3 separate regions of the Homo sapiens genome follow, and regions 1 and 3 are each reported to be linked to region 2. Evidence: microRNA targets listed by miRTarBase, many of them from high-throughput screens and not tested one by one. Region 2 holds a microRNA gene; each other region holds the end of a gene's coding sequence.

Region 1 (3,000 bases), not on the chromosome of region 2:
ATATATAATAGCAACAAAAACCTCATTAATTTTTAAAAATTAAGAAAGCGAAAAATGGCTGGCCTGGTGGCTCATGCTAGTAATCCCAGCACTTTAGGAGGCTGAGGCAAGAGGATCGTTTGACCCCAGGAATTCAAGAACACTGTGGGCAACATAGCAAGACCCGTTTCAATGAAAAAAACAAAAAAGAAACAGGGAAAAACCTAATTAGATAACTGAATTAATTTTGATATATACTTTTCCATTAAAAAAAAGTTTTTTTTACAAAAAATGTCTATAGCTGGCTGGGGGTGGTGGCTCATGCCTGTAATCCCAGCACTTTGGGAGGCCGAGGCGGGTGGATCACTTGAGGTCAGGAGTTCGAGACCAGCCTGGCCAACATGGTGAAATCCTGTCTCTAATAATACAAAAATCAGTTGGGCGTGGTGGTGCATGCCTGTAATCCCAAGTACTCGGGAGACCGAGGCAGGAGAATCACTTGAACCAGGGAGGTAGAGCTTGCAGTGAGCAGAGATTGTGCAACTGCAGTCTAGCCTGGGTAACACTGAGTGAGACTCCGTCTCTAAACAAACAAATAAGGGGGGTGGCAGGTGGCTGTTCAGGAAGGGAGAAATACTCAGTTCATCTTGCCATGTACATGTATGTGTTTGAATGCACATGCCCCTTAAGATCAAACACAACAGACTTATGTCTTCACATGGAGAACCTTGTCTGACGCTTTCCCAGGGGAAACCAGATGTCCAGATCCACGAAGCTCAGAGATGGTTCAAATAGGGCATTATTTAACAAATACATACTAAATCTTCTATGTGCCAGGAACCATTCTAGAGATCTAATCTGCTTTTTGCATGTACTTAAAACCAACTCTATTTTGCATCAGAACACCTAGCCCTGTATCGTATTAAAGACTTAAGAAATGCTAGATGAAAGAATGCTTAGTGGCAATGAATTAAAAAAAAATCTTTTTTAAGAGAGTGATAATGAATTTTTTTTGGTTTGTTTTTTGAGACGGAGTTTCGCTCTTGTTGCCCAGCCTGGAGTGCAATGGTGCGATCTTGGCTCACTGCAACTTCCACCTCCTGGGTTCAACTAATTCTCCTGCCTCCACCTCCTGAGTAGCTGGGATTATAGGCATGCGCCACCACGGCCGGCTAATTTTGTATTTTTAGTAGAGACGGGGTTTCTCCATGTTGGTCAGGCCGGGATTACAGGCGTGAGACACCACACCCAGCTTTTTTTTTTTTAAGAGACAGGGTCTTGCTTTGTCGCTCTGGCTGGAGTGCAATGGTGCAACCATAGGTCACTGTAGCCTCAAACTCCTAGGTTCAGTGATCCTTTTGCCTCAGTATCCTAAGTAGGTGGGACTATAGGCATGTGTCACCATGCCCACCTCATTTTTTTTTTTTTTTTTGAGACAGAGTCTCCTCTGTCACCAGGCTGGAGTGCAGTGGCGTGATCTTGGCCCACTGCAACCTCCGCCTCCCGGGTTCACGCGATTCTCCTGCCTCAGCCTCCCAAGCAGCTGGGACTACAGGTACCTGCCACCACGCCCATTTAATTTTTGTATTTTTAGTAGAGATGGGGTTTCACCATGTTGGCCAGGATGGTCTTGATATCTTGACCTCATGATCCACCCGCCTCGGCCTCCCAAAATACTGGGATTACAGAAGCAAGCTACCGTGCCTGGCTTCATTTTTAAAATTTTTTTGTAGAAAGAGGCTCTCATCATGTTGCCCAGGCTGGTCTCCAACTCCTAGCCTTAAGTGATCCTCCTGCCTCAGCCTCCCAAAGTGCTGGGATTACAGGCACAAGCTACTACATCTGATGGCAATGTTTTTAATGAGTCTGAATTCGTTAATGAAGGGGAAAATTTATTATTTTTTTTTCCCAATGACTCCCAAGTCCTACTCGCAAACAAATACATTGTAGAAAAAAGTTTAATTGCTGGTTATTGTTTGAATCTTGAAATACAATTCTTCACTGATGATACTGGTATAAAATGGTGGTTATTAATTCATGCTAGCACAACCAAAACTAATTTAACATTATTGGTAAAAATGAGTCATTTTTGAATCTCTATTAAAATCTGAACACATAAACAAATCTGTGCTAAAACTGGAACTGCCTTCTCACTCTACATATAATTAAACTTCCAGCTTCAACCATCTGATGTTGAAATCTAAAGCACCTCCATGAGTTAAATGTCCCCGACAAACCATGTAGATGGACAAACAAGATTGGTGGTCTTTAATTGCTGGCGACAGAAAAGGCTGCAGTTTAGTACTTAAACCTGCAGTTAGTGGTCAACTTTCTATCCAGGCAGAGTAAACTAAGGAGAGCTATGAAATATCAAAAGAAAACTAGAGGCCAGGACAAAGAGGCAATGTCAGCCAAGCCACTGCAAGATGGTATGCACCCCTGTATTTCAGCCAAGGGCAGGCAATCCAAAATTACACACTGCTTTCCTTAACTTGACCAAACAGTGTATTTTTCCTCTGAAAATCTTGTCAAAGGTTGTATTCCATTGTACCTAGTGAAATACAAAGTCCACTCTCATAAAAATATTATATTTTTCAAAAGAAATATAATACATTGAAAATCACTGATTGCTGCTTCTTCGTCTTTTTTTCCGTGAATGTGTAGGTGTTTGAGTCTCTTGTATTTCTTCTTTTACACAGGATATGGGCTGTTTGAAAACTATTTCATCATCTTTATCATCATCATTCAGTTCAGCCACTTGAGATTTTCGCCTCTCCAAAAATGTTGGTGTACAAACTGGTGTGGGGCCCTGGATTCAACAAGTAAAGATTATAATACATAAATGTAAAACATGATTATGACTTTACCCAAAAATATCATCTCTCCTCTATTTTTACAAGTTGTGCCCCATTATTTTAGCTCTGTTACCATCTTTTGGTGATACTATTGCAAAGAATAAAGAACTTAGATGCTTATCAAACTTGGTACAGAAATTCACAATTAACAAATATAGCATGTTCC
Region 2 (3,184 bases):
TTTTGAAACTAGTATCTACAAATAAAGATAGGGTAATGTCCTTTTATAAGGGCTAGTGAAACTATTAGATTTTAATAGAGTGGCAACAAATGAACTGGTAACTAAACTCATAAATGGACAGTATTATTACATAATCCACTTTCATTCTGAAATCTCTGCAGAAATAAAACACTGCATTAGAATAAGCTTATTTATTGCAGACAAAATATACAAATCACATGACTCAACTTACTCAAGTCTCTAAAGCCAGCCTAATCTTGGGCCCCAGTTTTTCTCATGCACAAGGAAAGCAGATGAGTTCTCTGATCCCGTAAGAAATAACTGCAGGGGTTTAGACTGGTATGAAGTCTCTATGGACTAGCAGTGTCATCTCAGATCCCACACACCTTAGAATCATGAATGAACTGAAACCACTATGGACCTGAATACCTGGGCTCTGATTATAATCAAACCATATCCCGTCTACTCAAAAAATTTTCAAACTTAAGCACAAAAAACTGGAATACAAAAGCAAGTTTTCAAATTGCTCTCACCTAAATCACAGAGTGAAATTAAGCAGACTTTATCTTCCTTTATACAAAAATAATCACCAGGTATGTTTTGGGAGTAAATTTTAAACAAATGTGCAGTTCATGGACTTTTGTTAAGATACAACTTTAAATATTTAGCTCTAAAGAAACAATACATCAGCTGAAATTCAAAATTAGTAAAAACTTTTCTGCTTTCAATAATTTTTAAATCTTTAAGCCATCCTTCAAAGATACTACCAAGTATCTATCAGCACTAGACCAATGATTTCTATATTACATTGCGAGTATCAATTATAAAATGCACTATTTCATGTGTCAGAACACAGAAACACTGTCAATTAAAAATGACATATACCAGATATTGAAATATTTAACAGTTGGTATTTTAGAACAAATATAATACAGTACGTACATGCTTGTCCCTCTGAATAATCCAAAAGTACAGGAACCTAATCTATGTATCAACTACAGGGGGGGACACCAAACCCCTAGAGACTCAAACTTTTTTAAATGCATGAAAAGTCAATATAAACTACCAGTTCAAAGAATCAATCAATAAATGATCAATGCAGACTGAAAATCCAAAGACACTTGGCACCCCAAACAGATAACTAGATAACTCACTGCGGCCTAAACAAGTGATTTCCAAATTAAGGAAGTGAAAAATCTAAGCACTCAATGACTCCAAACAGCTCAGGTGGCCAAGACCCCTGTTCTCCTTTAATCCAGTGGTCCACAGGTACCAACTCAGAAGACAGAGTGCCACTTACTGAGAGAAAAAACCTTTCAGTAAGTGGCACTCTGTCTTCTGAGTCGGATTTTTCTGCAAACACTATGGACACAATGAACTGGTTTAGCTTAGGGCAGTTTACAAGCTTAAAGTACATTTATGACACTGTTTCAAAACAATGGTAGAGTTGCAAAATACAAAGAAAATCTTATCAGACTAAACATTTTCAGACTAAGTATTAAAAGTTATTCAGGAAACACAAGAGAATGTATTTATTCCGTAGTATCAACAATTATAGCATGGAAACACACAGAACCTCTATTAAACGTTATCTATTTCAAAACTCCTAAAATCTATTACTTGTCTTACACCAAAATGTGATATAGTACCACATCCTATAGAACATTAAATATAAGTAAATTTAAATGTCAAAGTAAATTCACAACCAATGAAATTAGAAGATTCACAAATATAAACTTAGTAATTAGGAAGCTAACTCTAGGCCAGACGCGGTGGCTCACGCCTGTAATCCCAACATTTTGGGAGGCCGAGGTGGGTGGATCACGAGGTCAGGAGATCGAGACCATCCTGGCTTACACAGTGAAACCCCGTCTTTACTAAAAATACAATACAAAAAATAAAAAATTAGCCGGACGTGGTGGTGGGCACCTTTGGTCCCAGCTACTCAGGAGGCTGAGGCAGGAGAATGGCGTGAACCTGGCAGGCGGAGCTTGCAGTGAGCGGAGATCTCGCCACTGCACTCCAGCCTGGGTGACAGAGTGAGACTCTGCCTCAAAAAAAAAAAAAAAAAAAAAGAGAAGAAAGCTAACTCTATCAAAGTTCAATTGTACGTAAGAATAGACACATTCAAAACAGGCAAGGCAGAATAGGTCAAAAATGTCTCTGAACACAGCAAACCCATCCCCAATCTAGACAGAAATATAAATGTAGATTCTGTTATTTCACTAACGATTTAATTTTCTTAAGTTACAGCCATCACACAAAGAAAAGTCTGCAGTCTATCTATCTGCCTATCTATACATATATGTATATATATATCTCTATACTGTTGCGAAAAAACATACTTTTTTTGCAACAGTAACTGCACCAAATTACTAGGCTCAATGTTGATTTAGAAAACAAATAACTAAAAAATGCTTTTTGCTGTTTTTCCAGAGGAATCCAATTTGATCATCCATTCGGACCTTAAACCTCAGAAATTCAAATGTGTAAAAAATGTCCATCAATGTAAACAAAAATGGCAAAATGTGAATTTCTGGAGCTGGGTAACAGTTAAAAGGCAGTTCATTACACTGTGCTATGTATCCTTATGTTTTTAAAAGTCTATTAAAATGTTACATTTTTCAAAATTGTTCAGGTGCATCAAGTGGTCTTTACAAAAATCTTTCATTCTAAAACCGTAGAGAGCATCCATTTATCAATAATGTACCTGACAGGACACACTGACTTGAAAGTAGTCTTCAAATCACACCAACAATTATTCTATCAACAGATAGATGTAAGGCCATATCTGACTGGAAGTTACTGAAGAAATAAATGTAATATAATTAAGTATATGTCTTCTTATGTTAAAATGTTATATAGTTGATAACTAAAACAAAAAAAAAAAACTTCATTCTTAGAATTGGAAGAGACAAACTTTCTAGTTCGGTGGTTTGCAAACTTTTTGAGGTACCTGGACAAAAGAGCCAGACAAGTCACCTTGTTTTATACATAGGAGATTATACACAAAATATGAGATGATGCTTTTAAAAATGATTTATCTACTTAAAAAAGGCTTTAAACCCATTCTGTCATTTCAACAGCTACATTCTACAGCTAATATGGTGGCATAGAAAAGATTAAATGACTTGGGATATATCATTCAATTAGTGGCAAAAGAACTCAGGACTCTTATTTTTCC
Region 3 (3,000 bases), not on the chromosome of region 2:
TGCTATTTATAGTAACATGTAATGGGTTATTTTATAGTAACTTAAGATGTTCTTAGTTTTAATTTCTGATATGATAAACATCCATATATAGCCCACATAAAAGATTCCTGGGGTTCTCAATAATTTTTAAGAGTGTAAAAGGGACCTGAGACAAAGTTTGAGAACTGGTTTAAGACTTAAAATTTAATAAACACCTGCCTTTTGCCGTGTAAAAAACCCCAAATCTTTTCCTAAAATCTCTCCCATTATCCCTTAAGTCCTTGTCTTGTTTATTACAATATCTGCAGCATCAGTCAGACAAACGAATACAAAAGACCAGTAAGTGGTGACTGTAATACACTTCTATAGCTAAATCTATAAGCCAAAATATAAGGCAGAGTAGGTAGGATGAGCATCCAACTTGGAAGTTAGTAAGAAATGGTGGCAAAACTTTAAGGTAACTGGCAGAAAAAACCATGTAAGACATTTAAAGGTATATGCAAAAATTGTTCTCTTTAACTAACTATGTCCTCTCATTTTTTTCCCAGAGATTCCTTCAGTCGAATGAGCCTTCGCAAAATGGATCTCTAAACTGAATGCACTTGTTTTATTCATCTGCAAAGAGCCATGTATTCAACATCGAGTGTGAAAAGATCTATTGGAAAACAACATGGAATGGAATTCTGGAAATTATTATTCATTGAAGAATGCAGTGGCCAAGAAAATATCAAATGTAGATTGTTAACGCTTGAGAATCATGGCTATGGTTTCTAATGTTCTGGTAACAAGCTGTTATCTTTTAAGACATTTTAATGACTCAAAGGTACACTATACATTTACCATTATTTATACCATAGCTAAGGTTAAAAATTTATTCACTTTAAGTTCGTATTTTTTAATTTATATTACCATTTATAGATTCATTTTGGAACCATTTTAAATGTAGTAATGCTTATTTTAAAGGTACTATTAAATATGTGAATGTTTACACTAATTTTACCGAGTGGGACTTCAAAATTTTTATTATTGACAATGGCAGAGAACAATTAAAGGGTTGACTCAAGAACTAGTTCCAAACCTAGCAGAATAAAAATCATAGATAGCCCCAAATTAATGAGTTTGGTAACTGTTTCAAAGTTATTTTCCATTTACATACCCAAAACAGGAATTTAGAATTGCAGAACTTTACTTAGTAAAACCTTTGTGTAAAATAATTTAAATACGGGGATAACTAATACCAGTGACAACACCTTAACTTGATTAAATCTTATTACACCAATGATAGTAGTAAGAACTTCATGATTCTTAGCAACTAAAATGAATGATTTCTCTGTTTCAAATTAAAACCAGCCATCAGTTTTTGACGATGTAAACCAGTAAATTAGAATCTACTTAAAGCTATCTTGTAGCACCATGAAGGTAACACAGCTGGAGTTTGAGAAATTACCTATTTTCTGACACTTGTAAAGTTTAGAAGCATATAAAAAGTAAAATTAGGTGCTTTAATTCATCTAAAATTATATGCAAGTCATACAGAAAAAAAATTTGAGAAGTAACATTTTAATTCTTGGCAAGTTTTTCCAAAACGATGCATAGTAATGATTTCCAGAACAGTTTAGAACAATGGTTTTTGGGTAGTAGTGCAGTTTACAGAATGGCATCATTTATAATCCTTTTCTTCTACTGACCAGTTACATGAATCACTTAAGAACTAACCAGATCTGGGTGCGGTGGCTCACATCTGTAATCCCAACACTTTGGGAGGCCGAGGCGGGTGGATCACGAAGTCAGGAGTTCAAGACCAGCCTGGCCAAGATGGTGAAAACCCGTCTCTACTAAAAATACAGAAATTAATTAGCCAGGCACAGTGGCAGGAGCCTGTAATCCCAGCTACTTGGGAGACTGAAGCAGGAGAATCGCTTGAACCCGGGCAGCAGAGGTTGGAGTGAGCAGAGATGGAGCCACTGCAACTCTAGCCTGGGCGACAGAGACTCCGTCTCAAAAAAAAAAAAAAAAAAAAAACTATCATCTGTACACACACGCACACACACATACATACATACACACACATATATATAAAAGAACTGATCAGATTGGCTGGGTGCAGTGGCTCAGGCCTATAATCCCAGCACTCTGGGAGGCAGGGGCAGGCGGATCATGAGGCCAGGAGTTCAAGAACAGCCTGGTCAATATGGTGAAACCCCATCTCTACCAAAAACACAAAAATCAGCCAGGTGTAGTAGCCCGTGCCTGTAATCCGAACTACTTGGGTGGCTGAGGCATGAGAATCACTGGAACCTGGAAAGTGGAGGTTGCAGCGAGCCAAAATGGCGCCACTGCACTTCAGCCTGGGCGACAGAGCAAGACTCTTAAGTCAAAAACAAAAACCAGCACTTTGGGAGGCCGAGGCAGACAGATCACGAGGTCAGGAGATTGAGACCATCCTGGCTAACAGTCAAACCCCGTCTCTACTAAAAATACAAAAAATTAGCCAGGCGAGGGGGCAGGAGCCTGTAGTCCCAGCTACTCGGGAGGCTGAGGCAGGAGAATGGCGTGAACCCGGGAGGCGGAGCTTGCAGTGAGCTGAGATCACGCCACTGCACTCCAGCCTGGGTGACAGAGCTAGACTCCGTTTCAAAAAAAAAAAACAAAAACTGGTCAGATTTAACGTATTGCCTTCATTCTATAGTCAATGTAGTAAATATTCAAAATATACTAAAAAATATCTACTTCTGAGAGCCTAAGTGATGGTTGATATCCCACACTCCATGTACTTTAATGGGCAGTATCATCTCAAATTCCTCTTATCTATATCAATTCAAAGACTGAATCACAAAAACATTTTTCAGATGAGTCTACATTGTTAGACCAAATCTGAGTCAGAAGGGCATAACCTCAAAACTCTATTTGAGGAGCCAAATGAACAATAAGGAAAGGTAAGGAGTCAAGAATGGAAATCCCTCCCCTCCAAAAAAAGTGACATTTTCCCTTCTTCTTTGGGGGTCAGTGGTGGGTATAAAC

The links. Region 2 holds the annotated microRNA hsa-miR-4797-5p (GACAGAGUGCCACUUACUGAA, at 1,316-1,336, opposite strand). A microRNA usually pairs through its seed, bases 2 to 8, with sites in the 3' UTR of a target mRNA and lowers its output. Matches are read on the target gene's strand: a 7mer-m8 pairs with bases 2 to 8, a 7mer-A1 pairs with bases 2 to 7 and ends in A, and an 8mer does both.
Region 1: the mRNA of NIFK is a reported target of hsa-miR-4797-5p. The part of its 3' UTR that is shown has no 7-base or 8-base seed match.
Region 3: miRTarBase lists DOCK7 as a target of hsa-miR-4797-5p. The part of its 3' UTR that is shown has no 7-base or 8-base seed match.

What each region holds. Positions count from the first base shown.
Region 1 is chr2:121,725,125-121,728,124 of GRCh38, forward strand. It overlaps NIFK (nucleolar protein interacting with the FHA domain of MKI67), which reads right to left. Exons shown (of 7, transcript NM_032390.5): 7 at 1,821-2,788. The coding sequence ends at 2,600. It overlaps NIFK-AS1 (NIFK antisense RNA 1), which reads left to right. Exons shown (of 4, transcript NR_037857.1): 4 at 2,679-3,000. Among named protein-coding and RNA genes, the nearest start is that of NIFK, 10 kb to the right of the region's middle.
Region 2 is chr3:197,292,604-197,295,787 of GRCh38, forward strand. It overlaps MIR4797 (microRNA 4797), which reads right to left and starts at 1,345; the gene lies at 1,275-1,345. The region is part of intron 3 of DLG1 (discs large MAGUK scaffold protein 1); the gene reads right to left.
Region 3 is chr1:62,452,984-62,455,983 of GRCh38, reverse strand. DOCK7 (dedicator of cytokinesis 7) reads left to right here. Exons shown (of 50, transcript NM_001367561.1): 50 at 528-1,258. The coding sequence ends at 570. Among named protein-coding and RNA genes, the nearest start is that of USP1, 17 kb to the right of the region's middle.